Linked DNA regions of Homo sapiens. The protein of the gene in region 6 purifies or fractionates together with the protein of the main gene of each other region. This does not show direct contact. Each region holds a gene or a part of one and is shown on either strand. Other genes may lie near its edges.

What was found.
Region 1: the proteins of FIBIN (region 6) and MAP7D1 purify together in Homo sapiens (affinity purification with mass spectrometry; one large-scale study listed by BioGRID and IntAct). This does not show direct contact.
Region 2: the proteins of FIBIN (region 6) and MAN2B1 purify together in Homo sapiens (affinity purification with mass spectrometry; one large-scale study listed by BioGRID and IntAct). This does not show direct contact.
Region 3: the proteins of FIBIN (region 6) and GALNT18 purify together in Homo sapiens (affinity purification with mass spectrometry; one large-scale study listed by BioGRID and IntAct). This does not show direct contact.
Region 4: the proteins of FIBIN (region 6) and TTC13 purify together in Homo sapiens (affinity purification with mass spectrometry; one large-scale study listed by BioGRID and IntAct). This does not show direct contact.
Region 5: the proteins of FIBIN (region 6) and MELK purify together in Homo sapiens (affinity purification with mass spectrometry; one large-scale study listed by BioGRID and IntAct). This does not show direct contact.
Region 7: the proteins of FIBIN (region 6) and POTEE purify together in Homo sapiens (affinity purification with mass spectrometry; one large-scale study listed by BioGRID and IntAct). This does not show direct contact.

The regions. Positions count from the first base shown.
Region 1 is NC_000001.11:36,169,660-36,173,159, reverse strand, and holds part of MAP7D1 (MAP7 domain-containing protein 1), read right to left. Parts: intron 2,190-3,500; coding exon 1,845-2,189; intron 1,648-1,844; coding exon 1,579-1,647; intron 697-1,578; coding exon 533-696; intron 1-532. UniProt on the Homo sapiens protein: Microtubule-stabilizing protein involved in the control of cell motility and neurite outgrowth. Facilitate microtubule stabilization through the maintenance of acetylated stable microtubules.
Region 2 is NC_000019.10:12,646,012-12,649,742, forward strand, and holds the end of MAN2B1 (lysosomal alpha-mannosidase isoform 1 precursor), read right to left. Parts: intron 3,418-3,731; coding exon 3,330-3,417; intron 3,206-3,329; coding exon 3,125-3,205; intron 2,392-3,124; coding exon 2,164-2,391; intron 1,588-2,163; coding exon 1,432-1,587; intron 1,325-1,431; coding exon 1,222-1,324; intron 722-1,221; coding exon 609-721; 3' UTR 501-608; downstream 1-500. UniProt on the Homo sapiens protein: Necessary for the catabolism of N-linked carbohydrates released during glycoprotein turnover. Cleaves all known types of alpha-mannosidic linkages.
Region 3 is NC_000011.10:11,615,506-11,619,005, forward strand, and holds part of GALNT18 (polypeptide N-acetylgalactosaminyltransferase 18), read right to left. Parts: intron 1-3,500. UniProt on the Homo sapiens protein: Catalyzes the initial reaction in O-linked oligosaccharide biosynthesis, the transfer of an N-acetyl-D-galactosamine (GalNAc) residue from UDP-GalNAc to a serine or threonine residue on the protein receptor.
Region 4 is NC_000001.11:230,923,362-230,926,861, forward strand, and holds part of TTC13 (tetratricopeptide repeat protein 13 isoform a precursor), read right to left. Parts: intron 2,287-3,500; coding exon 2,156-2,286; intron 1,613-2,155; coding exon 1,480-1,612; intron 573-1,479; coding exon 480-572; intron 1-479.
Region 5 is NC_000009.12:36,666,895-36,670,394, reverse strand, and holds part of MELK (maternal embryonic leucine zipper kinase), read right to left. Parts: intron 1,086-3,500; coding exon 989-1,085; intron 1-988. UniProt on the Homo sapiens protein: Serine/threonine-protein kinase involved in various processes such as cell cycle regulation, self-renewal of stem cells, apoptosis and splicing regulation. Has a broad substrate specificity; phosphorylates BCL2L14, CDC25B, MAP3K5/ASK1 and ZNF622.
Region 6 is NC_000011.10:26,992,779-26,996,911, forward strand, and holds the start of FIBIN (fin bud initiation factor homolog precursor), read left to right. Parts: upstream 1-1,333; 5' UTR 1,334-1,748; coding exon 1,749-2,384; 3' UTR 2,385-4,133.
Region 7 is NC_000002.12:131,208,313-131,212,335, reverse strand, and holds the start of POTEE (POTE ankyrin domain family member E), read right to left. Parts: upstream 2,801-4,023; 5' UTR 2,517-2,800; intron 1,309-2,516; 5' UTR 1,153-1,308; intron 1-1,152.

The DNA.
Region 1 (3,500 bases), on a different chromosome or scaffold from region 6:
TTTCACTGTTCCTGAGTCATTTCCTGAGTGCATGAGTTGATTCTCTGAGGATTGGGTGGACTCCCCCTACCTGGGGCTCCCAGGCAAGGCCACATCTCAGGCACTGAGGGTCCTGACCTTGGGGCTATGTGTTCCCTCTAGCCTGAGGCCCTCCCAGGTAGGGCCAGGTGGCCATTTCCTTCATTTCCTCACCAGCACTCAAGCTAGGGCTTTACCCATGTCACAGAGCTAGGCACGCTCACACAGATGCATACCTGCATACATACAGACACATGGGGTACATGTACGAACACAGGTACTGACAGTAAACAGTTACAGGGGCCTACAGTGGCACATTCAGAAGCAAATGTGCCTGCAGTTGTACAGGTGCCCAGATATTCTAACACAGGGACACAACTGTAGATGTGAACACAAATAGGACCACATAGACACAGATAAGGCAGAGCCGTGAACATGGATGTGTGTACACACTGCACCAGTATGCAGACGGTGAGCACACGTGTACATGGATTCACGGAGACCCATCCCGCACCTTGTTTTTCTCGAGCTTCTGCCGCTGCCGTTCCTCCAGGGCTGCACGGCGTTGCTCGGCTTTAAGACGTTGCTCCTCCAGCCGGCGCCGGCGCTCCTGGAGCTGCTTCTCCCGCAGCGCCTTGGCCTTCTCCTCCTTCTCCAGCCACACTGCCTTCTTGGCCGCTGTGGACAAAGGAGCCCAGTGGCGTGTGTGAAGGGTTCTGCAGAAGGCCTGGGCCAAGGACATTTCCTCCAAGTGGCCAGCCCTGCTACCCATGCCCTGGGTGGGTCTTTCTCCCGCCTGCTTAGGTGGAGCTTTCAGTCTGAGACAACCCCCTCAAATTGAGAGGCTTACTGAAGACAGGACTCAGGAGAGGCCTATTTCTCCTCCATTGGCCTTATGGGCTCTCAGGGCTGAAGGAGAAATGAATGCTTGAGTGCAAGATCCCCATCTGACCTGGGGGGCCTACCAGACAGATGTCCACATACTGTGATTAAGAGCATGGGATTTGGGGTGGCAGGAGGCTTCTGGGTCTGAATGTCAGCTACTCTACTAGCTGTGTGGCTTAAGCAAATGATTTCATCTCTCTGAGCCTCTGTTTCCTCCTCAAAATGGGTTGAGGATTAAATTAGATGTGTGTCCTGCTCTTAGCACAGTGCACATAATTAAGTGTTGCAGAAGTGTTGGTTTTTTTTTTTTTTTTTTTTTTTTGAGACGGAGTTTTGCTCTTGTTGCCCAGACTGGAGTGCAATGGCACAATCTCGGCTCACCACAACCTCCGCCTCCCAGGTTCAAGCAGTTCTCCTATCTCAGTCTCCCGAGTAGCTGGGATTACAGGGATGTGCCACCATGCCTGGCTAATTTTTTGTATTTTTAGTAGAGACAGGGTTTCTCCACATTGGTCAGGCTAGTCTCAAACTCCTGACCTCAGGTGATTCGCCCGCCTCGGCCTCCCAAAGTGCTGGGATTACAGGCGTGAGCCACTGCGCCCCAGCCTGTTGGTGTTATTAATAGGATGCTGATGATGACGATGAAGAAGATGATGAGGCTTCCTGCTCACTCACCCAGGTACTTGGCCCGCTCTTCTCGCCGCTCCTTTGCCAGCTTGTGTCTCTCTCCTGCCTTCTTCACCTCTGAGCAGAGGGAACAAGAACAGACAGGTCAAAAGGCTGTCCCCAAAGAGGAGTCAGCCTCAGATCCCTCCCTCCGGGCCTCACCCCATCCTTTCTTTATCTCCTCTAGGGCAAACAGGACTCTTTCAGTTGGCATGATCCAGGGCCAGGACCCTGAGCCAAGAGGTTTAGGCCCAGGCCGGGGTCATTACACACACCTTGCTTGGTGGGAGGGCTGTCGGAGGCTGGCACTGCTGTTGGAGATGGCTGGCTGCTCCTTCGAGGAGGTCTGGCATCCCGTGGGCCCATGGCTGGTGGGGTGGGTCCTCTGCTCTTTGCTTCAGAGGAAGGGGACTCTTCCTGCGGGGGGGCTGGCCTAGGCCCGACCTGCCCTGAGGGGCTCTCTGGTTCCAGTGGGAGCTGCTTAGAGCTAGTGGCATTCTTCATGGCAGGAGGGGTGTCCGGGGGAGTGTCGGGGACCAGGGCTGACATTGGTGGTGGTGGGGGGGAAGGGTCACCTTCTGGAGAAGGTCTTGGCTCTGGGGGGGTCCTGGCGACCACAGCTGAAAGACCAACACAAGAGAGGAGAGAGGTCAGATTGCTCATCTGTGCCATCAGCCCCATATGTGGCCCTCTCCCTTGTTCAACCGACTTCTTCATTCACTTATGTTTGAGTTATTTCTATGTGCCGGGCCCTGTTCCAGATACTCATGATATAATGGTGAGAAAATAGCCATGATCCCTGCCTCTGTGGCGCTTACCCTCTAGCAGGGCAGACAGACAAATAGCTAGGCAACTACAGTAGAGAATAAATACTATGTCTGGGGCAGCAAAGCAGAGATAGTTAACCTATATGGGGAGGGCTTGCTGAAGAAGTAACAACCAAGCTGAGATCCGAAGGATAAGCTGGAGTCAGCAAAGCAAGGAGGAGAGGTGTTGGCAGAGAAGAGTATATGCGAAGGGGCAGAATGGAGCAGGGTGTGTTGGAAAAGCTGAGAACAAGCTTGTAGCACTTATTCGTGCACCAAATGCACTGATTGTTTCCATGTCTGCCTCCCTCTCCTTTCTGCTTTACTTCTGGGTGACTGTGCCCAACCCAAGGTCTGTTCACAGAGGGTGCCAGTGCTGGGCACATGGGACTGACCAAGAGGAAGGACGTAAGTATGGGCTCTAGTGGAATGCTTTGCTGTGAAGATTCCATTGGCAACAAGCTACGTCCACTTTATAATCTTTTTTCCCCAAGCCACACCGAAATTTCTGCTTTTAAGACATGACTATTGTAGGAATCCTGTAAAAGACATCGAAGTGAAGTAAGGGAGCCACACGATTTGACATATACACATGTGGGGCAATTGAGAGACAGGCTTCAGAGTCAGTCAGATGAGGAAGATGGGAAGAGAGGGCTTGTTTCCCCAGCAGACAACCATGGACAAGCCAGTCAACCTCTCTCAGCCTCAGGTTTTTTTGTTTTGTTTTGTTTTGTTTCCCCCCAAGTCTACTTGCTGCTAGTGAATTTTTCAAGGGTCTAGTTAGTTCCTTTAAGTCTCTTTTTTTAAATTTTTATTTTTTAAGAGATAGGGTCTTGCTATGTGGCCCAGGCTGGATTCAAACTCCTGAGTTCAAGAGATCCTTCTGCCTCAGTCTCCCAAGTAGCTGGGATTACAGGCCCATGCCTGGCTCAGCCTCAGTTTTGATACCTGTAAAATGGGGATAACAAGCCCAAGCTAGTAGGGAATGTCAGCAAGGTGCCTGGCACTATCCACATGCCAGCCAGCAAACAGCACTCCCTGTTGGTCTTATGAAGCCTCCTGGTCTCCCAAACAGAAGCTTCTGTATGTTGAGCCCTGGTGCCATCTGCTGCTACCATCCAGGCA
Region 2 (3,731 bases), on a different chromosome or scaffold from region 6:
GTGGGGGGCGCCTGTAGTCCCAGCTACTCGGAAGGCTGAGGCAAGAGAATCGCTAGAACCCGGAAGGCGGAGGTTGCAGTGAGCCAAGATTGCGCCACTGCACTCCAGCCTAGGCGACAGAGGGAGACTCTGTCCCTCACACACACACACACACACACGAAGAGATAGGATCTGGCTCTCTTGCCCAGGCTGGAGTGCAGTGGTGTGATTATCACTTACTGCAGCCTTGACCTCCTGTGCTCAAGCAATTCTCCCAAGTAGTTGGGAATACAGACACTTCACCCAGCTAATTTTTTAAATTTTTTGTACATACAGGGCCTCATTTTGTGGCCCAGGCTAGTCTAGATCTCCTGGGCTCAAGTGATTCTCTCTCCTCAGCCTCCAGAGTTGTTAGGATTACAGGAGCAAGCCACCACACCCGGCTCTGGGTCATAAATTCTGTCCCCCTCTAACAAGCAAATAACAGACAAAAAAAACCCACACTCAGTCACAGAGCGACCTGAGTCTTAGTAGTAGCGTTTTAATGGCAGCAGCCCCAAGAGGAGAGTCAGAGTCTGGTCTGCCCCCGGAGCAGGAGGCTTGGGCTTGGAGGGCCCATCCCAGCAGACCTAACCATCCACCTCCTTCCATTGAACTGAGGCCAGGAAAGTGCGGATTTCCATGGGTTCCAGCGTGATGTTGGCCGGGTCCAGCTGGTACGGAGTTTGGTGGGGTGTGGGGCCTGGAGAGGTGCAGGGGGAAGGAGGAGTGAGGAGGTGCAGACTTCCTCTGACTCACCCCACGATGCTTCCTCCCCTGGGTCTAGACACAGCTGCATATCCCCGAATCTGTCTCCAGGGCCTCAATCCCAGACTCTTAACCTGCTTCCCCGGCCCCGAATACCACCCCCAGGTCCAATGTCCTCATACCCTCAATCTGGCCACTGTCCTCGTACCCTCAATCTGACCCCAGGGGTGATGAACACCCTCCCAGAACTAGACATGGATGGGGATTTTCAAATCTTGTTCTTGGGACTAAACAGCACCCACAAACCTCAAGACCCATTCCTGGTTTGCCGCACCCATTTCAGATCCTTTAAGCCCCTAACCTGGGTCTGGACTCTGCCCCATACCCTCATGACCTTTTTGGGTCCTGGCCAACATCCCATGCCTCACACATTGCCCCCACCTGCCGGCCCCAGGTAAGACTCCACCCCTTCCCTACCCCTGACCAGGGCCCCACCTGTGTTTGTTGTCCACTTGAGCCTGGAGGCTGCCTCGCGGAGCTGGTTGGCCACCAGCGTGGTCTCCTGCAGGCGGGTGATGGTGAAGGTGGAGAACAGGTCCTGCGGGGAAGGGGATGGGCCCAGATGAGTTGGGGCAAAGCCAGGTTTCTCTTCTCTCCCTCTCTCTTGCCTCTCTCCGATCTCCTTCTCAATTTTGCCCTTCTCACCCTCAAGTTCAAGGTAACGGGGGCGCTCAGGTTACGTCCGGAATCCTCTCCTACGGCAAACTGGTGCTCCAAGCGCAGCAGCACCATTTCGGGGCCCCAGCTGGCCAGCGTGAGCAGGTGCACCGAGGGCGGCAGGTCCCTGCGCAGCCCTGAGAACTGCGGGAGAGAGGGCGGGGCTGAGTTGGAGAGGGGCGGGGCCTGGATGGAGAAGGGCGGGGCCGAGCCAGGTCAGGAGGCAGGGCTAGGTTGTAGGGGCGGGGTTTCGCCGGAGAGGGGCAAGGCTCAGCCGAGAGGAGCGGCCAGGGCCGTGACAGGGAGGACTGAGCCAATGGGGAGATGGGTCGGTCCCAAGCTTAGGGTTCGAGTCCCGATGGAGCAGAACTGATGTGACCTGAGACTTTGGGAGTTACGGCGGGGCTGAAGCCGCGGGGCTGGGTGAGGCAGGACAGAGCCTGGGGGCGGTGAGAGGGCGGGGCTAAAGTGAAATGGGCGGGGCCGGAGGTGAGTTGGTGGTTTAGGGGCATGAGCTAGGGCTGTGCCTCTACACAGTCCAGGGGGGTTGGGACTGGGCTGGCACTGGGCGGGGACTGCCCAGGGGATGGGGTTGGCCCGAGGGTTTGGGGCTAATTATGGCCAAATGGATCCCCGCTGAGCCTAGGAAACTCCGCACCCAAACCCGGCTCCCTGGTAGACTTCAATCCGGTCCTCTCTGCCTACCCCGCTGCCCCTCACCTGCGTGCGCGGAGGAGCCCCGAGATTGTAGGCGGCGCCGCCACCCGGGGCCAGCACCACCTGAGGGGCCAGGACCTCCTGCTCCGCCAGGAGCCGGTGTCCGGCGGCTGCAGCCTGGGCTGTGTCCAGCAGCACCAGGTGGCGCCCTCGCACCCACGCCCCCGACCCGTTCTCCATTAGTGGCTCCGATACTCCGCGTCCATCGTCCTTCAGCAGCCTTCGGTGCACCTGGGGGGAGAGTGGCCAGGAGGGGGTGAGAGTCGTGGGTTTGTGGGTGTCCTTGGGCCAGAAACTGGGTAAGGGCGTGTGGGAATGTCAAAAGAAATTAAAGGGTGGGAGGAACGGATGAGGATGAAGGTGAGGGTCTGGTAGGGCAACCCCAGCAGAGGCAGGATCCAAGTAGGCATGGGAACCAGGCCGGAAGGAGGTAAATGCCTAACAGGGGGGCCTGGATATGGCACGCCAGAGCGTGGAGGGAGCCTGGGCAGGAGATGGAGAAAAACGGAGAGGAAAAGCCACACACAGAAATGGAGTCCTTGGCCGGGAGCGGTGGTTCACGCCTGTAATCCCAGCACTTTGGGAGGCCGAGGTGAGTGGATCACCTGAGGTAAGGAGTTCGAGACCAGCCTGGCCAACATGGTGAAACCCCATCTCTACTAAAAATACCAAAATTAGCCGGGCGTGATGGTGTGTGCCTGTAAGCCCAGCTACTCGGAAGGCTGAGGCAGGACAATCACTTGAACCCAGGAGGCAGAGGTTGCAGTGAGCTGAGATAGTACTATTGCACTCCAGCTTGGACAACAAGAGCAAAACTCCGTCTCAAAGAGAAGAAAAGAAAGAAACGGAGTCCTCAGCTTAGTGGGGCCTGAAAGCAGAGAACTGGGCCAGAAACAGCCTTCAAGGTCCAGCAGGGGTCCAGGTTGGGAGGACCCTGGCTCGGATGGGGCTCTGACCCACTCACCATGAGCTCCAGCGAGCCATCTCTCAGGCTGCTGCCCCCCTGGGAGCGGTCAGTCAGCACAGTCAGCTGCATGTTTCCATCCTGGGAGTTGAAGGGTGAAAGTAGAGGGCAGTCAACCCCAACCCCAGGCAGCTTTGAGATGCTGCAGATAAGGGGTGATTCCCTTTCTATCGAGGTGGGGAGGTGCAGGATGGGGGAGAGCTACCGTGATGTAAATCCGGGTGTTGACTGGATAGTAGTTTCCTGCCACGGGCTCCGTCTGGTTCAGTTTCCAGGTGGGTCGATAATCCCGCCTGGGGTTGGGGGTGAGCTGATCAGGCTTGGGATCTGGCTCCCCAACTCTTTTTTTTTTTTTTTTTTTTTTGAGATGGAGTCTCGCTCTGTCACCCAGGCTGGAGTGCAGTGGCGCGATCTCGGCTCACTGCAAGCTCCGCCTCCCGGCTTCACGCCATTCTCCTGCCTCAGCCTCCCGAGTAGCTGGGACTACAGGTGCCCGCCACCACACCCGGCTGATTTTTTTGTATTTTTAGTAGAGACGGGGTTTCACCATGTTAGCCAGGATAGTCTCGATCTCCTGACCTTGTGATCTGCCCGCCTCGGCTTCCCA
Region 3 (3,500 bases), about 15 Mb from region 6:
AGGGTAAATAGATGTTACAAGAACACCACCCAGAAATTCAATTTCCTTTTAGATTTATTTACTCTCCTGAATTTGTTTATACCACCATCATCCCTCACAAAAATGTAACAGTCTGATCTTTCCTCTTTTCCTGAAACAGTTATTTTCAACTTTTTTTTTAAAGAAGTACAACTTTTTATAAAATGAAATATTTTATAGAATGCCAAATAGAAAACAGAAGACAGTGGAGTTTTGTTGTTTGCAGGGAGGGGAGGGAGCACCTACAGGCAGAGTCTGGGAGACCCCACTTAACCCTTTTAATTCTCAGGCCCCAGATCAAACCTTCTACAAGTTTAGGTCTCCTGGGTACACAGTTTGAAAACCACTGCCCTAAGGCATCTATGTAAAATTAAAATTATGTATGTAACATATAATACAGGCAAAATATTTATGTATCAAAAAAATTTGTAAAATACACAAATCACAAACACTGAGTCTTTTTTTCTTCTTCTTCTTCTTCTTTTTTTCTTTGTAGAGATGGGGGTCTCACCATGTTGTCCAGGTTGGTCTTGAACTCCTGGGCTCAAGTGATCCTCCCACCTTGGCCTCCTAAAGTGCTGGGATTATAGGTATAAGCCACCACGCCTGGCCAAACACTGATAGTCTTAGAGAACAATAAGCAAGGACACAAATAGTCCCACAAGATAAAACAAATACCAGGGGTGGGGGAGGATATTAAGTTCTAGAGTAATCAAAGGAGTACAAATCAAAAGAATAGAGCATTTGACAGGGATTACATTTACTCGGAAAAATTTGAATGATAACACCCAATGCTGGCCAGGCTCCATGACTTTGGTACAATAAGACACTGTTGGTGGCTGTAAAGAAAGCCTTTCCTTCTGAAAAAACAATCTTTCATAAAAATGTTCAGACTCTTTGAGTCAGTACTAATCCCACTTCTGGAAAGACATCCTTAAACATAATTCAAAAAACAGTGAGGTGAAGATGTTCATTTCTGCTCTAATTATAATAGCAAAACAAATGTCCAATAATAGGAAAGTGGTTGAATCAATAATAGTATACTGATGACAGAATACTATGCAGTCATTAAAAATACAGTAAAAGTTCTCTTTAGAAACTCTCCATTTAATCAATTCTCCAGATTAACTATGCTTGCCATTCCCTCTGTAACAAACCCTATTTGTCTCTAGTACCACTGCCCACAGCTCCTGCAAATAGTTGAGTTTTACACTTACCAGTGGTCCACTGGGTTTGTTCTCAAACGTGTTTACACTATTTGTACTTGTCACTGTAACGGCATAACCTAATCACGTATTATATAAACCAATGAAATATGACGGCTAAAAAGATGAGTGTTGTTTCTAAGAAAATTACTTTAAGTTCTAAGTGCTTTGCAAAGGTTTTATAAACGGTAGTCAGTTAAAGAATAGCAATCAAATTACATGTGAGCAAAATCATTGCAAAAGATCAGACAAAAATCGTAACAATTTAGGCTACTACACTGAGACTGCTTCATAAGCACCTTTAAGTTTCCAATGAATTTTAAAGAAAACAGAACTATGGGATATTATGGGAGTGGTTTGTGCAAGGAAGATGAACAGGACGCCAATTGGCAGATGCATCCCAAAGACAGAACTTTGGCCTGATATCAAAAGTCTAGCAAATGAATGTACATTTTGGAAAACATTAAAATAAAAATATTTAATTGTATGTATGTAATACTTTGTTGTACTCTCCTCTTTAACCAATTTTTCTATTAACTAACTCAAGCCCTGACCACGTTGACTAAAAGGGATTCTTTGTCCTTTGAAAACAAGTCCGCTATGACAAGGACCAAGAGTGCCCATACTCCTGTAGAGTGTCTCTAGTATACAGTTCACCACTGTAATCACTTTCTCAGTGCAGTGTCTGGCACACATTAGGTCTCCAACAGATAAATGTTAAACCAATAAACTATGTAGCAAATATGGAAAAAATAGTGCTTCGTTAACAAAAAGAAAGTGAACAAAGCAGAATATAAAATTACATGTAAATCATGACTACACCTTCATTTTGAAATATGGAGGCAAATGAACAAATCCAGAAGGAAATGCTCAAAATGCAAACTGATTTTTAGGGTAGAATGAATTATGGGCAATTTTATGCATTTTTAAATATTTTCTTAAACATTGGCACATTCTTTTCCATATTCAGAAAGCTACTAAGAAAAGAAGAAAGCTATCTTTATTTTTACTGAATTTCCAAAATAAGAACTGAATCAACATTTCCATTTCCTGCACTCTCCAACACTGAGAACTCCTTTAGCAGATTCTTGCTTCATCCGCCTCACCGTGTCAAGCCATCAGATCTTTCTACTCCTAAGATGGAGAGAACCTGACCCTTACTAACATTTACTTTGTGTTTCTAAACCCCCAGGATGCTTTTTTTAAAAACTCATAAGTTATCCACCCTCTCATTTAACGTCTATTTGGTCAAAAAACTTCCCAAAACTGCAATTTACATTCCCAAGAGATTCCCAAACACCATCTAATTAAATCATTCAATCAGAAAACAAATTAAAATGAAATATCACTGCAACTCCCAAGACGAAAATAAACTTTTCAGTCATGACTAGAACAGACCTCTGGGGTGATGCTCCAAAGCCTCTTCTAATTGCAAGTCCTATGGAACATCCTGCAGAACATTTTGTGACATTTGCAGCTTCAAGGAGACTTTCCTTCTAACAAAAAGAGGAGCCTGGACAAGACTCCAAAGCAAAACACCTTTTTTGGAGAGTGGTAACACTTTCATTAATAACCAACGTGGCCATAGGCATCAGCACTCATCCATTCATCCACGCTTCCACCCCACAGCTACTTTCTGCAGAATGTGCCAGGGACTGTCCTGCATGTTCAGTAAACATTAGTTAAAGGACTGGAACCTCTGCCTCTTGGCATGAAACAAAGCAAAACCTGAGTTTATCTATGGAGTTTCCAAGTGGGAAGGCTGCTGACTCCCTCACCCCTCAGCCATCCTCTGACACCCACTTCCACCACTGTCAACAGACTCCAAGGGACCCTGGGGCCCTCCTGGGAGACAGTTTAGTACGTGGGTAAGAACTTAGACTTCTGAAGCCACACTAGCTGAGCTTACATCCCTATACTATCATATACCAGTGTGTGACCCTGGACAAATCATATACCCTCTCCCTGCCTCAGTTTCCATATCTGTAAAATGGAGCAAATATTACCTACTTCATAAGGTTGTGAAGATTAAATAAGTCAATATATGTAAAGTGTTTAGAATAGGGCCTGACATATCCTAGGTGCTATGTTATTTTAGCTCTTATTATTATTACCGCTTATTCCCTCCAGTTCAGCAAAGTAAACTGGATTGTTCAAAGGGCTATGCTGACTAGAGGGAACTTGACAGTGGGTTACACATAAACAGCTTGTACCATCAAGCACAAGAGCTTGATCTTATTGTCCTTTACCACCCTCTGCCTTCAGAGAGCTGCACTT
Region 4 (3,500 bases), on a different chromosome or scaffold from region 6:
TGGCAGCTTAGTTACCAGATAGTGTTATTTATCTAAGCCCTTTGTGTGTTGGGGTGGAATGGGGAGCCGCCCACCGTGAGAGACTCCACCACGAGAGACTTGTCAAATAATTTATTTGAGCCATGTACTATCAAAAGAATATTATGGTTACTGTAATGTTCTCCATCTAATAATTTTCTATATTTTAAGACTCCTTAAAGACTGACGCCCTAGGAAAACATCTGCAATCTACCCTTCGGTTGTGCTCTACACCAGACAGAAGGGCCTGGGGAAGGAGTATGGCATGCGCTATGTTTCTTTCTGCAGCTGGGCTAGAGGAAAGGAATGCAGGCAGGACTCCACAGGTGCAGAGTCAATCAGTATGTTCCCTGGTCAAAAAGTCACCAGGAAAGGAGCAATGGGTCACTCCTGGTCTCCATGGCCTGTGTCTTGAGAATAAACTCCTAGGAAAAGAAGAAAGATGCACAAAAGGTTCGTACCTGATTAAATTAATGTGGTTGTTAAAACCTCTGCTAAGACTTCGTGCTGGCATTTGATCTAACCACAGCACGGGCTGGTCTGGGTCAGCAATCCTATAAAACAGAGACCTTTATAAAACCAGAAGTGTTCAGAAGCATTCCAAATAAAACATGTAGAAGTGTTTGCAAAGGTGGGGATAAAGCAACAGCTAGTCCATCATATCTAAAAACGTGATGTCCATACCTACAAATTCCAAACAGATGTTCCAGCTGGACCAGGCGAAAAGCCAGGTAAAGGTAAAGGTTTAGGAGCAGAGGACAGTTTTTGTCACGCAAATGAATATCAAAGGTTACTCTAAACTAGCTAGTTGCCAGGCACACCATTATCTGTAAAGGGACTGGTCCAGCGAAGTTCATTCAGAGGTACCACAGGTAATGGATCTGTTCTTTCAAAGAGACTGTTTCTAAAATGCTTCATGTAAATAGGTGATTGAAAATGTGACAACAATCAATTCGTTTTTTTTGTTTTTTGAGATGGAGTCTCGCTGTGTCGCCCAGGCTGGAGTGCAGTGGCGCGATCTCGGCTCACTGCAAGCTCCGCCTCCTGGGTTCACGCCATTCTCCTGCCTCAGCCTCCGGAGTAGCTGCGACTACAGGCGCGCACCACCACGCCCAGCTAATTTTTTGTATTTTTAGCAGAGACGGGGTTTCACCGTGTTAGCCAGAATGGTCTCGATCTCCTGACTTGGTGATCCGCCCGCCTCGGCCTCCCAAAGTGCTGGGATTACAGGCGTGAGCCACTGCGCCCAGCCAATCAATTCCTATTTTGAAAATATTAGTTAAGTGTATGTCAAATAATAAAGATGCCAGCAATTTCTAACAAACTTTAGAGAGGAAAACCTAACTTGGAAGGCCTGGTGTTAGCAAGCAAAACAGGGTTCATAGCCTGTTAGCTAAAACAGACTGACGTTATTTGACAATGATAAGACTTATAGTTTATTTTCACTGAGATGTTAGTTACCTTCTCCATTTAACTGCAATGTCAAACATGTCTCTCCACTGCATCAACCGTGTCTTCCCATTCATTCGAACTTTCGAGTTGGTCCATGTACGCTGCACGGCTTGCATGACCTCCAATGCGGCCAAACCCATAGCTACGAGAAAGGAATATCGAGAAGAGTTAGTACACTTTAGAGGGACTGAGTTCCACCTACTTTACAGAGTCTCAGTGATAACTCAAGAGTTAACACATAAAGGGTCAGAAGTATTGGTGATATAACAAGACCCAAGGCACGTTTCAGTCATGATGGTCCTACTAAAATTAAAACCCATCAGAGTTAACTGAAGACAACTCAAGTTGTCTGCTCCCAACTCTGCCTCCTACTGAAACAAGTGGAGGTTTGCATTCTTCCTCACTCCTATAGTAAGGAAATAGCTCCCTGGATCAGCTGTCTGATTTTGAGTAAGGACTTAAGACCTATATTCTAGTTTATACTACAGCAATAGCAAAAAAGCCAAGGATGGAAGCAGTCTTCTTTCAGAATTCAGTTTGAATGATTCTACACATTTCTATTCTGATCACATGGAGAATTTGAATAAGCACAATAAATACTAATTTATTAAAATGCACAACATGGCTTAACCACCCTTCCTCTTATGCCAGGAATATTTTCATTTTCAGGTAGTTTCCAGAATACCTCTGTGTATTCTCTTGTTTGGCAGGAAACCAGGTGTTTCATATTGCATCAGGGATCCCAAACGATCAGCCACACAAATCAGCTCCTGTACTTCAGGCTTATAACTCTCAAAATTCTGATGTAACACATCTCTGGAAGAAACATCATGTACATGATAAGGACTTTTACAACAGACATTTGGTAATCCAATTCCACCTGAGAAGCAGTCACTTCCTCCACGGGAAAACTAATGAAGCAGTCTACGACCACATAATCCTTACTTCAGTCCTTTGCACCCAACCATACCTCAGCTTAAAAGGGAATCTCTATGATGGCATGTGCATAATTGCCATCACATGCTGGTTAGTAACAGTGAAAACTATGATAACTAGTATGCAATTCAGAAGACACCTCTTTCCATTATTTGCTTTGTAAACTTCTCCAGAATACATTCCTGAATGGACTGCCTTTTTCAACAAGCAACCAAACCTCTGCCCTTTGTCCACTCCTCAACCCTGCCCAAGTTGTATTAGAACAAGTATACTTGGAATGATACATTGAAATACTACTGTTTAGCTGCCAACCTGCTTGATGCTTTTATAACAAAGACTGAAACTCTAAATTACAGGTTGTTCTGGGGATCTCCAAGACCATCCTTACTCAGGCTCAGAAATTGGCTGAAAGGGCTCAGTGGACTTAGCACATAATGATACTCACAATAGTGAGTATCATTTTTTATTTTGTGTCCTTTACAAAACAAAACCGGCAGAGGGAAGAGGCACATTGGGAGAAGTCTGGAGGAAACCAGTCACAAGCTTCCAAGGGTCCTCTCCCAAGGAAGTCATATATGACACATTAAATTCTCCCAGCGATTAGTTGCGAACACGTGTAAAATGCTGCCAACCAGGAAAGCTCATTAAAGACTCAGTGGCCAGGGTTACAGACAACTTATGCCTGGCAAGTTCCCAAATTCCAGATACCCAGAAGGAAAGCAAGTGTTGAATAGAAATCACACTGTTTGAACACACAGTTTAGGCACAGGGAACCTCTCCTATTAGTTTTGGGAGTGGTAGGAATCCCCTCGAAATCCAAGTTCCCAGATACCAACCAAGGGTCACTCTTGCAAGCAGTCCTTTCTAAGGACAGCAGTCATAGACCTGCTACTATGTTAACTCTTTTGTGCATCGAAATATTTCTCAAAAAAGGAGTAGTTCGAGAACATGCATAATCTCCATGAGCAATCAATTTTCTTTTTATTATTTTTGCTCATTTAATAGTTGAGACACATAGAAAACACGAAGTCAAATTACCCAGTTTAAGAACTAGAGCAATTCATGCAGTTGTATCTACTTGTATGCTGCTTTCC
Region 5 (3,500 bases), on a different chromosome or scaffold from region 6:
TGCTGAGAAGTTTACGTTACATATGGCTGTTTATTAGGCATATTTTATCCTTTTGTTCTGAAATTTTTCTGGTTGGAGATAGTTAAGTATTTCAAGCACTGACACTGAGATTTAAAAAAACCATAGTACCATTGCACTGAAAAATGTTAAATAAAATTAAGGAAACTAGTTCAACCACATATATACACATTATTGAGAAGCTAAGCAGTTACCAAATACTAACGGATAATGTTCTAAAAATGGTCAGTTATGTAAATATTTTGGAACCTGAATGCATTTTTCAATAGAAACTACTGTGGTGTTAGTTGGCTTTCTAGGTAGTTCTCCAGCACTTCCAGACTGTGGGAGAAAAACCATAAGATTAGGAATGAGAAGACCTGGGTTCTGGCTCCAGCTTTGTACTATATAGCTTTGATAAATCATTTTATTCCTGATCTCCTCAGTTTCTTCATCAATAAATTAATAATAATTCCATAATATCATCTAATACCCTGTCCACATTCTAATTCTCCAATTGTCTTGAAAATAGACAATGCCTTTAAGAAATTGCTATAAAAGAATAGCAACTTGAAGAGTTACCTATGCTGCAGAACTTTTCATACAGAGGATTTTCTTTGAAACAACAGTATCTTTACGATTTGGGAGGACTACAATCTGTTAGAGGATATCTGTATTTTACTGGCAGAAGAGAAGGGTAAGATGGGCCTCAGAGAGGTAACTAGTTGGCTGGGGTGAGGACCACTGTCTTCCCAGCCTGTTGTACTTAAGGTGCCGTCCTACTGCTGATCAGTTTCATGATTCTACCCCATGAGGAAGGCAGTGGCTACAGGTCCAGGAATGGCCACAGGTCATCCACACATAAACAGATATTCCTACTCTCCAACAGAATCTATGTGATGATTTACCTTAATCAGGTCTATTAATACATGAAAAAGGAAATCTGGTTACATATACTAAAGATTAGAGTCTAAAAAAACCAAACACTTACCGCCTCTCAGGGCTAATGACACCTGTCATTAACTTGTCTGTTCCTGTTGAATTTACTGGTATTTTAATTGGAGTTTCTTTCAGGCACTGGTTTCTAGCTATTAGAAACAGAACAAACACAATCCATATGCAGCACATACTATGGTTCTGAAATTTCTATTATTAATAATAATGCAGGTATCACATTATTCATTGACTCAGAAACAGTATAATCACTTGACCTGTGATGTCGAAGGCTCTAATTCTTTCAAGAAATGTTTCCATGTGATTTATAATAAAAACAAAATCATTTTGCTTTGTATGTGTGGCTCTTCTTTTTTTTCTTCACTGCAAATTTAGGCCATGCTTTTAATTTTATTATAAACATCATATGATAAATCTAAACAGATCATATAAATACAAATCTCATAATTACTGATTCTTTTTCTAAAAATAAAAGTCAATCTGTATTTATACAAGGGCCCAATTTATGCTTTTAATTGATCTAGTATTAAAAGGTGTTAATTGAATTCATAGCCCGATTCAACTCATGTTAGGCAAAAAGAACAGACCCCTGTGAAAGCTTGACATAAGTTATTAAAGAGATGTAAGCTTTGGCCAGGCACAGTGGCTCATGCCTGTAATCCCAGCACCTTGGGAGGCCGAGGAGGGCGGATCATGAGGTCAGGAGTTCGAGACCAGCCTGGCCAACATGGTCAAATGCCATCTCTACTAAAGATACAAAAAAATTAGCTGGGCGTGGTGGCGCACGCCTGTAATCCCAGCCACTTGGGAGGCTGAGGCAGAAGAATCCCTTGAACCCAGTAGGCAGATGTTGCAGTGAGCCGAGATCGCGCCATTGCACTCCAGCCTGGGAGACAGAGCAAGACTTCATCTCGGAAAAAAAAAGAGATGTAAGCTTTGATTATTTTTTATATTCCCTGTTCCAGAATTTTGTGTTTTATTCTAAGTAGGGTATTTGCATTCCAGATAGTTTATGACAAATTTGTACTAACGAATCTGGTTATACTGATTAGCTCATGATCTAAAAGTTTTATACCCTTTAGAGATAATATTCACACTATAAAAACAAAGATATAATATCAAAATTTTAAAAGAGATTAGGGGCTTGGTTTTGTTTATGACTATTTGGCTACATTCTCACTTTCCACAAGAACAAGAAAATAAGAGCAATCAGAAATATTTATAAAAACAGTTTTCATCTTTGTATACAGACAGTATCTATCACCATACAGAACTGCCCTTCAACAAACTGCCAATGCCTGCATTGTGTAGGAGTGACGAAAATGAAATTTATGTTTATGTCAAAAATAACTCACAATGAAAGTAAAATGCAGGTCTGGGCATGGTGGGCTCACCCCCGTAATCCCAGCACTTTGGGAGGCCGAGGCAGGTGGATCACCTGAGGTCAAGAGTTTCGAGAGCAGCCTGCCCAACATGTTGAAACCCCATCTCTACTAAAAATACAAAAAATTAACCGGGCATGGTGGTGCGCACCTGTAATCCCAGCTACTCAGGAGGCTGAGGCAGGAGAATCTCTTGAACCTGGGAGGCGAAGGTTGCAGTGAGGCAAGATCATGCCACTGCACTCCAGCCTGGGCAACAAGAGTGAAACTCTGTCTCAAAAAAAAGAAGAAAAGAGAAGAGAAGAGGAGAGAAGAGAAAAAAGAAAAGAAAGAAAAATGCAAAGTGCCAGTGGAAGCTAACAATCATGGCTTCAGCCACTTGCTTCCTTAAGTGGCTCGTGTTTAAAAAGAAACAACCAATAATAGCTTTGACCAACACAATCTTTCTCGTCATGACAACATATGTCAACTGATAATATTTCAAGATTATAAAATAAATTCCAAACTACCCATATTGCAAAACCTTCAGAGTTACACAAAAAGTAAAAAATGTCAATAATGGAAGGGATTATGGCATTAAAATTTTTTTTAAATAAAAAAGCCCTGGGCCGGGCACAATGGCCCACGCCTATAATCCCAGAAATTTGGGAGGCTGAAGAGGGCAGATCACCTGAGGTCAGGAGTTTGAGACCAGCCTGACCAATATGGTGAAGCCCTGTCTTCACTAAAAATACGAAAATTAGCTGAGCGTGGTAGCAGGCGCCTGTAATCCCAGCTACTAGGGAGGCTGAGGCAGGAGAATCGCTTGAACCCAGGAGGCAGAGGTTGCAGTGAGCCGAGATCGCACCACTGCACTCCAGCCTGGGCAACAGAGCAAGACTCCAACTCAAAGAAATTAAAAAAAAAAGAAAAAAAGGGGAAAAAAAAGATCGTTGAATGAGCTAAGGTGAGCTGAGGTCCGTTTTATCTCCCTGCCCAATCTCATGAGTCACAAAGGGTACTGTATTTACAGTAAGAGAAACAACAGAACAGAAAGAGACCCTTTCATTGGGAAAGAATGCAATAGCAGCTACCATTGCAGGGTAGAGGCTATCTCACTGAATTCTCATAACAACCACAGGCAGCGCCACCGCACCCCCCCACACACACACCATCACACACACACAC
Region 6 (4,133 bases):
GGTCTTACTCTGTCACCCAGGCTGGACTGCAGTGGTGCGATCTAGGCTCACAGCAACCTCCCTCTCCTGGATTCAAGCAATACTCCTGTCTTAGCCCCCTGAGTAACTGGGATTACAGGCATGCACCACCATGTCCAGCTATTTTTTTTTTTTTTTTTTGTATTTTCAGTAGAGATGGAGTTTCACCATGTTGGTCAGGCTGGTCTCGAACTTCTGACCTCAAGTGATCCACCCACCTCTGCCTCCCAAAGTGCTGGAATTACAGACGTGAGCCACCACGCCTGACCTATTTTCAAAAATTTAAGTTTTCTATTTCCCAAAATATAAGTGCCAGGAAGGCAAGGATTTGTCTTTATTTTTGTTCACAGCTGTATTCCCACTACCTCAAATAGATTTTGGCATGCAGTAAATGCTCAAGAAATATTCATTAAACAAATGAATGGCCTTTAGGATGGCCATTTGCCAATAAGTTCATAAATTAGAAATTAAAATGGCCAGGTTAAAAAAAAAAAAAAAAACATTGTTTTTCTCCCCCCAAGTTAAATTAAAAGACCTTGTGACAATTAGTTCTGGCTCAACTAAAGTCTAACTGTGTGACTATAATCAATTTGCTTAACATTCTGCTCCTTCATTTCTCCATCTGGAAAATGGGCATAATAGTACCAGAAACATTCTTCAAAAGCTTTCAAGACTCTCAAAAGAGGCAACAACTATAAAAGCATTAGGTTCAAGATTCAATGCAGATGCTTAGCATTGTTTCATAAAATTAAATAAGGATCTCATTGTCCTTTAACTCACTAAGCTGGCAAAATTTCATTTTTCTGCTTCTGTTCTTATACATACTAAAGACTATACATTAAGCAACTTTCTGTATTTTCATTTCATCCAAAGTATTGTTGATATAAATTTTAATTAACCAATCATTTTCAAACAAAACTGTAATTTCTGACACTTTAAATTTGCCTTCAAAGTCACAAAGTTTTAAAGATAAAAATAGATATACTCAGAAAATCCAACCTGATATTTATTGAGACACGTGAAATGGCATTTTTCCAGGGTAATCATTCCTTCCCCCTCCCAATATGTCAATAACAAACCAGGGTTTTTGTGGTGGAAATTCCATTTATTCTCTTCTCATTTTCTCTTTCGAGCTAAATTCTATTGTAGAGTCTTCCCTTCCAACCTTTAAAAAGCGACCCTGTACCTTTAATAGTGGAGACCTGGTGAGAGGTTCTTTTCCAAACTTGTTCCCTGGCTTCCAAGTGACGAAACCAGCTGTAATTTGAGAGCAGAGAGATCCTCAGGATATCTTTAGCCAAAGGAAAAGCTCCGCATTCCCACCCAGTCCAGAAATTGAAATACTATCAGGGGGCAAGAGCCTTTCTCTCCAGCTACACACTCCATCTCCCGGGAGCAAGGGGAAACTCCGAGAGGAGGGCAACAGAGCCAGCATCTTGCCAGGGCCCCGGAGGAGGGGTTCCCCGCTACGCCTGTGCCGGAGGAGTTCCAGTCACCGAGCGAGGGGCGCAAGGGTGGGTGCATCCTGCGCTGCGGCGGGCGCGCTACCCAGACGCTGGTGTGCAGAGCCACATGAAGCCTGCTGGGGACTGGGGGCCAGGGAGCAGCAAGCCAGCTGGGACTGAGGCGGACGCTGTCTCAGGGAGACGCTGACTCGCAAAGACACTCCCTTCCTTGTGCCTGGGTAAAAAGTCTCCTCCTGGGGTCCCTGGCCATCCTGAATATCCAGAATGGTGTTTCTGAAGTTCTTCTGCATGAGTTTCTTCTGCCACCTGTGTCAAGGCTACTTCGATGGCCCCCTCTACCCAGAGATGTCCAATGGGACTCTGCACCACTACTTCGTGCCCGATGGGGACTATGAGGAGAACGATGACCCCGAGAAGTGCCAGCTGCTCTTCAGGGTGAGTGACCACAGGCGCTGCTCCCAGGGGGAGGGGAGCCAGGTTGGCAGCCTGCTGAGCCTCACCCTGCGGGAGGAGTTCACCGTGCTGGGCCGCCAGGTGGAGGATGCTGGGCGCGTGCTGGAGGGCATCAGCAAAAGCATCTCCTACGACCTAGACGGGGAAGAGAGCTATGGCAAGTACCTGCGGCGGGAGTCCCACCAGATCGGGGATGCCTACTCCAACTCGGACAAATCCCTCACTGAGCTGGAGAGCAAGTTCAAGCAGGGCCAGGAACAGGACAGCCGGCAGGAGAGCAGGCTCAACGAGGACTTTCTGGGAATGCTGGTCCACACCAGGTCCCTGCTGAAGGAGACACTGGACATCTCTGTGGGGCTCAGGGACAAATACGAGCTGCTGGCCCTCACCATTAGGAGCCATGGGACCCGACTAGGTCGGCTGAAAAATGATTATCTTAAAGTATAGGTGGAAGGATACAAATGCTAGAAAGAGGGAATCAAATCAGCCCCGTTTTGGAGGGTGGGGGACAGAAGATGGGGCTACATTTCCCCCATACCTACTATTTTTTTATATCCCGATTTGCACTTTGAGAATACATCTAAGGTCATCTTTCAAAAGAGAAAAATTGGACACTTGAGTGACTTTGTTTTTAGTTTTGTTTTTGTACATTATTTATGTGATTGTTATGGAATTGTCACCTGGAAAGAACAATTTTAAGCAATGTCATTTCTAGATGGGTTTCTAATTCTGCAGAGACACCCGTTTCAGCCACATCTAAAAGAGCACAGTTTATGTGGTGCGGAATTAAACTTCCCCATCCTGCAGATTATGTGGAAATACCCAAAGATAATAGTGCATAGCTCCTTTCAGCCTCTAGCCTTCACTCCTGGGCTCCAAAAGCTATCCCAGTTGCCTGTTTTTCAAATGAGGTTCAAGGTGCTGCTTTGCATGCCTGCCAACCCATGGAAGTTGTTTCTTACTTCTTTTCTCTCTTATTTATTAACCATGGTCTGAGAGTTGTTTTTGTTCTATGTAACAGTATTGCCACAAAACTATAGGCAAATCGTGTTTGCAGGGAGATTTCTGATGCCTCTGTGGGTGTGTGTAAGTTAAAGTGGCCACATTTAAGAAGGCCAAGCTTTGTAGTGGTTGCACAGTCACACTGATATGCTGATTTGCTCTTTCTCATTGTATGTCTATGCTTTGTCATCAGTGCTATAGTAAATTACAAAGAAATAGGTAGATTGTATGAACATACCCACAAATGCCTATGATTTAGGTTACCAATGTATTCTTTCTCATTTGGGGTTTTGCTTCTGTCTGTCTGTTTATTGGAAACTTGTACTTCAAGTAGGGGGAATCCTAATTCTAATAACTCCTTAGCTAAGTTTTATTATTCAGGCAATAAACATGTTTTCATGTAATACTGGCTTACTTTGTAATTTACATCTGTAACTTTCATATTTCTAAAAGGGGCCAATGCAAAAGGAGAGAGAAGGACTGGATTTAAGCCAGTTTACTTAGAGTATATGATAAAGAAGGCAGAGGAATAGCTACATATTTGGCAATTCTCCTCTCTGTAGTCACCCTGACATCCTCACAAGAAAACAAATCTAGCCATTGCCCAAACTTTAAATTTGATCTCTATAGGTCTGCTTAAAGACTCAAATTTTCTCCAGTTTCTCTCATAAATTCAATTGCAAAAGTTTCTGACAAGGCTCATACCCTGTACCCTTATGCAGAGCAAGCATTCCATCCTAAGTTATAAACTACAGTGATGTTTAATTTTGAAGCCAGGTCTACATTATTTAATTAATGGCTTCAAAAGGTGGAGATGCACTTTATTTAATGTCTTTCCCTAGCTAATTCTTACTCTCACCTTAAATATGCTTTCTTGTTGCATATATGCACAGATACACACACACACACACACGAAAATAAATAAATGTTCATATTCTTCTGTTCAACAGACATTTATTTTCTCCTCTCCCTTGAATAAGAAAATAAGTTTTCCATTCCTATGAACTGTCTAATATCTTTCTATTACAGAAGGGGAAACTGAGGCTGGGAAAGGCTAAATGACTTATCCTCCATCAGTTATAACAGCCCCTGGTCTTCTTAAATTTAAACACGGGACTTCCCGAACTAATTTTTTTAAGGATACTGAAAAATGAGAGAGAGTGGTCGAATGCCTGAAATTTTGCTTAACTTACT
Region 7 (4,023 bases), on a different chromosome or scaffold from region 6:
CACGAGTGAAAAATCAAACCTTCTAATGACCTTGAGCAGTAGGATGTAATTAACTCCCTCATGCTTACCATTCCAATAATGGAACACTAGGCATAAGTGGTTTAACACAATCATGAAAGCATAGCTATTCAAGTAACTAATTATACAACTGATTTTTTTCCTCATCCCTAAAACATAGTAAAGGACCAGTTATTTTAAAAATACAACACAGTGACAATTTTGGCTTGTTGTTTGTTAAGGCCATTGCTTGGCATAAAGAAAACAAAAAGAGGAGGAGAAACAAGAATAGAAACATGAAATAGAAGCAGCAGCAAAAGAAAATGAAGAGGAACAAGAAGATGAGAAGAATACACAGACTAGAAAAAGCAAAAAGAACAGGTGCAGGAATTAGAAGGCCTATTATGACACCTTTTATCCCCTCCCCAATTCACAAAATTTGAAAAAGTCCAAGACCATCACAACAAAAAAGAAGGAAAAAATGACCGGGAGTGGTGGCTCACGCCTATAATCCTAGCACTTTGGGAGGCCAAGGTGGGCGGATCATGAGGTCAGGTGATCTAGACCATCCTGGCCAACACTGTGAAACCCCATCTCTACTAAAAATACAAAAATAAAATTGGCTGGGCGTGGTGGCAGGCGCCTGTAGTCCCAGCTACTAGGGAGGCTGAGGCAGGAGGATGGGGTGAACCCAGGAAGCAGAGCTTGCAGTGAGCCGAGATCGCACCACTGCACTCCAGCCTGGGCAAAAGAGCGAGACTCTGTCTCAAAAAAAAAAAAAAAAAAAAAAAAAAAAGCCACACACACACACACACACAGTCACCCCCTAAATTTTGTTAAGAATGAGACAATGCTGCCACTCATGCCTGGCTCAGAAGGAGGCCACCCTCCAGAGATTGCAAGAGAAGGGGGAGGACTCCTTTCCCTAAGTGCACCTCCACCACTGCCACCGAGGCCCATGGTACAGCACCAGCAGGTTCCTCCCCACCCCAGGTCGGACTGGGCCCTGCAGTGCTCCTACTCCCCCTTCCCAGTCCCCAGACTTTCTGCCACTACCACCACTAGCACCAATGCCAATACAGTTGCTGTCGCCGTCAATGCAGCAGCCCACCCTACAAGGTTCCTACCACCTTGCCCCCGCGGGCACCCTCCTACCACTCCTGTCGAGCTGCAGTCTCCGTGGCTGCCATCAGTCACACGAGGCGAGCTGCAGAGTCACGCCACATGCAGGCTCCAGCGTACCACAGGTGATTCCTTCTCCTCCTCCTCCAGCCTGGCTTGGAGCAGCTAGACCGGCAAAGCCAGAAAAGCCTAGAATGGGATGCAGGGAGTGGTAACGTTAGAGCCTCACCTTGTCATGCTGGCCACTGGGTGGCAGGGACCAGCTTCAGCTAAGGCACTCACACCCACCCACCGAAGTCCAGCCTCTCTTTCTGGCAAAAGGTGGCCAGGAACTGGGGCGGGTGTGAGTGCCTATGCTGAAACCACCCCCATCCAGGTGCAACTGGCCAGAAATTGCTGGGCCCACCAGGGCTGCACTCCTTGGGGAGCAGGAGTAGGAGAAACTCAGACCCAGCCAGCCCTCCCCACTCAACTGCTGGTTCCCGTTCCTGACACCTCCACCCACAGTGCCCTGTTCCCACAGTCCCCCGCGATGCCCACTAATCCCCACCCGGTAGTCCCAGGTGGTCTCCCCAACACAGAGCATGGGGTGTGGGCGGGAGGTGCAGGCCGGAGAACCGCAGTGGGTGTGGGGGCCCTGCCCTGCTCAAGATTGCACGAGCAGGAACTCTGGAGTCTGGAAAAGAGAAGAGTTACCCGAAGGAGCAAGGAGACCATGGCTGTTGCTGTCCCCACCACCTCTGCAGCCGACCAACACCACTGGCAGTATAGCCCCCATAGCAACCCTAACCTGACCCCTGCCGCCGGCAGTGTAGCCCCCGGACAGCACACCCAACACACCCTGTGCCAGTTGCAGGCAGTGTAACCCCAATACCCCCCCCCAACCACCCCTTCCACAGGCAGTGTAGCACCCGATAGTGCCCACAACCTGACCCAGCCACAGGTGTTGCTGCACAAGACAGTGCCCCAAAATCGCCGCCCCCACCCCACCACAGGTAGCGCAGCTCCTGATAGCGCACCCTGAGTAAGGGCAGTGCAGCACCCGACAACACTCCTAAACCACCCCCCGCTGCCAGCATTGTAGCTCCAAATAACCACCCAAACCACTCCCTGCCCCGGGCAGTGCAGCAGAAAATAGTGCCCCTAACCCCTCCCCCGCCACCGGCAGTACACGTTAGTGCACACAACCTGCCTCCCCCCCACCACCCCCGCCACCACGGGCAGTGTAGCCCCGGACAGCCAGCCAAAACCGCCCCCCTCCACCGCCAGCAATGCAACCTCGGAGAGTGCCCCCAACCAGCCCCCTGACACAGGCAGTGCAGCCTCGGGCAGTGAGCCCCAATAGGACACCCAACCCCTGCCCCCACAGGCGGGCAGTACATCCCCGGATAACTCACCTACACCAGGACATTTCTACCACTCTGGCCGAGCTGCAGTGTCCCACGTCACCACCAAACACAGCAAGGCGAGCCCCAGGGGCTCAGGCTCCAGCCTCCAGCATGCGTCGGTGCTGCTCCCTTCTACTCGTCTTCCTGCCTGGCAGGAGAAGCTCCCGCTACTAGTTGCCCTCCTACCGCTCTGTGGACACCACCAACTGCAGTGAGCCAGTGTCCGAGGCTCCAGCCAGAAACAGGTAGCAGCCATGCCGGTTACCAAACGCCCACACTTAAGAGCCTGAAATGACCTGACGCCACCTCCGCATGCTTTACGTACTGAGGTTACGCACATGTGGTTCCCAGACTACATGTTCTGATTGGATGAGAGAAAAACCTCTAGGCCTACTCTGATTGGACTTTATTTTCATGCTGTGATTGGTTGTCTTAAGACTGGCTCTCATCCAATCAGAACATGATAATAAAGTCCAATCCAAGTAACCCTGGAGGGTTTTTCTCATCCAATCAGAACATGCAGTCAGGAATCCTCCTGTATATAACCGCGGTATACGCCTGCTGCTGAAGGGAAGTCAGGCTCTTCCACGTTCCCGTATTTTCCTGTGGAGCTGCTCAGTGCCCGGCTTAGAGGACCAGGAATGGGTAATCACCAGCCGTACGCTGGAGGCTGGAGCCGCTACACCGTGGCTCGCCTCGCTGCGACTGGTGGTAACCGCGACCGAGACGGCAGTGCGGCGGAAGCGGTAAGAGGAGGAAAAGAGTTTTGGGATAGATGGAGGGGGTAAAGAGGGTGGTTAGTGCCAAAGGGAAGAGAGGATAGTGAGCAGGAGAGCGCGTTGCAAAAAGGCGGTGGGGAAAAGATAGTGGGAAAAAAAGTTTTTGGGTAGATGGAGGGAGAAAAACGGGGTGGGGAGCGGCAGGGAGGGAAGGTTTTGCAGAAAGATGGTGGGTAAAATGTTTATGGGTAGATGGAGGAGGAAAAGAGGGTGGCAAGGGAGGAGGAAAGAGAGGGTGGTGGGGGGGAGAAACAGCGTTGAGCAGTAGAGAGAGAAGGTTTTGTGAAAAGACAGTGGGGAGAAAAGGTTTTGGGTAGATAGAGGGGGAAAAGAGGGTAACAGGTGGGGGAAGGGAAAAGGGTAGCCAGCGGGAGGAAGACAAGGTTTTGCAAAAAGATAGTGGGCAGGAAAGAAAGACGGTGGAGAAAGAAAAGACAGTGGGTAAAAAGTGTTTGGGTAGATGGTGGGGGGAAAGAGGGTAACGAGGAGGAGGAAAGAGGGTGACGAGAGGGAGCAGGGAAAGAGAGTTGGGGAAAAAATGGGAAAATAGTTTGGGGTAGATGGAAGGCAAAAAAGAGAGTGGCAAGCAGGATAGGGCAAAGAAGAGGACGAGTGGGAAGGGGGGAAGACTGTGAAAAGACAGTAGGGAATATTCTGGGGGGTGGATGGAGGGGGAAAAGGGGAGGTGAGCAGGAGTGGGGAGAAGGCTTTGCGAAAAGACTATGGGGAAATGTTTT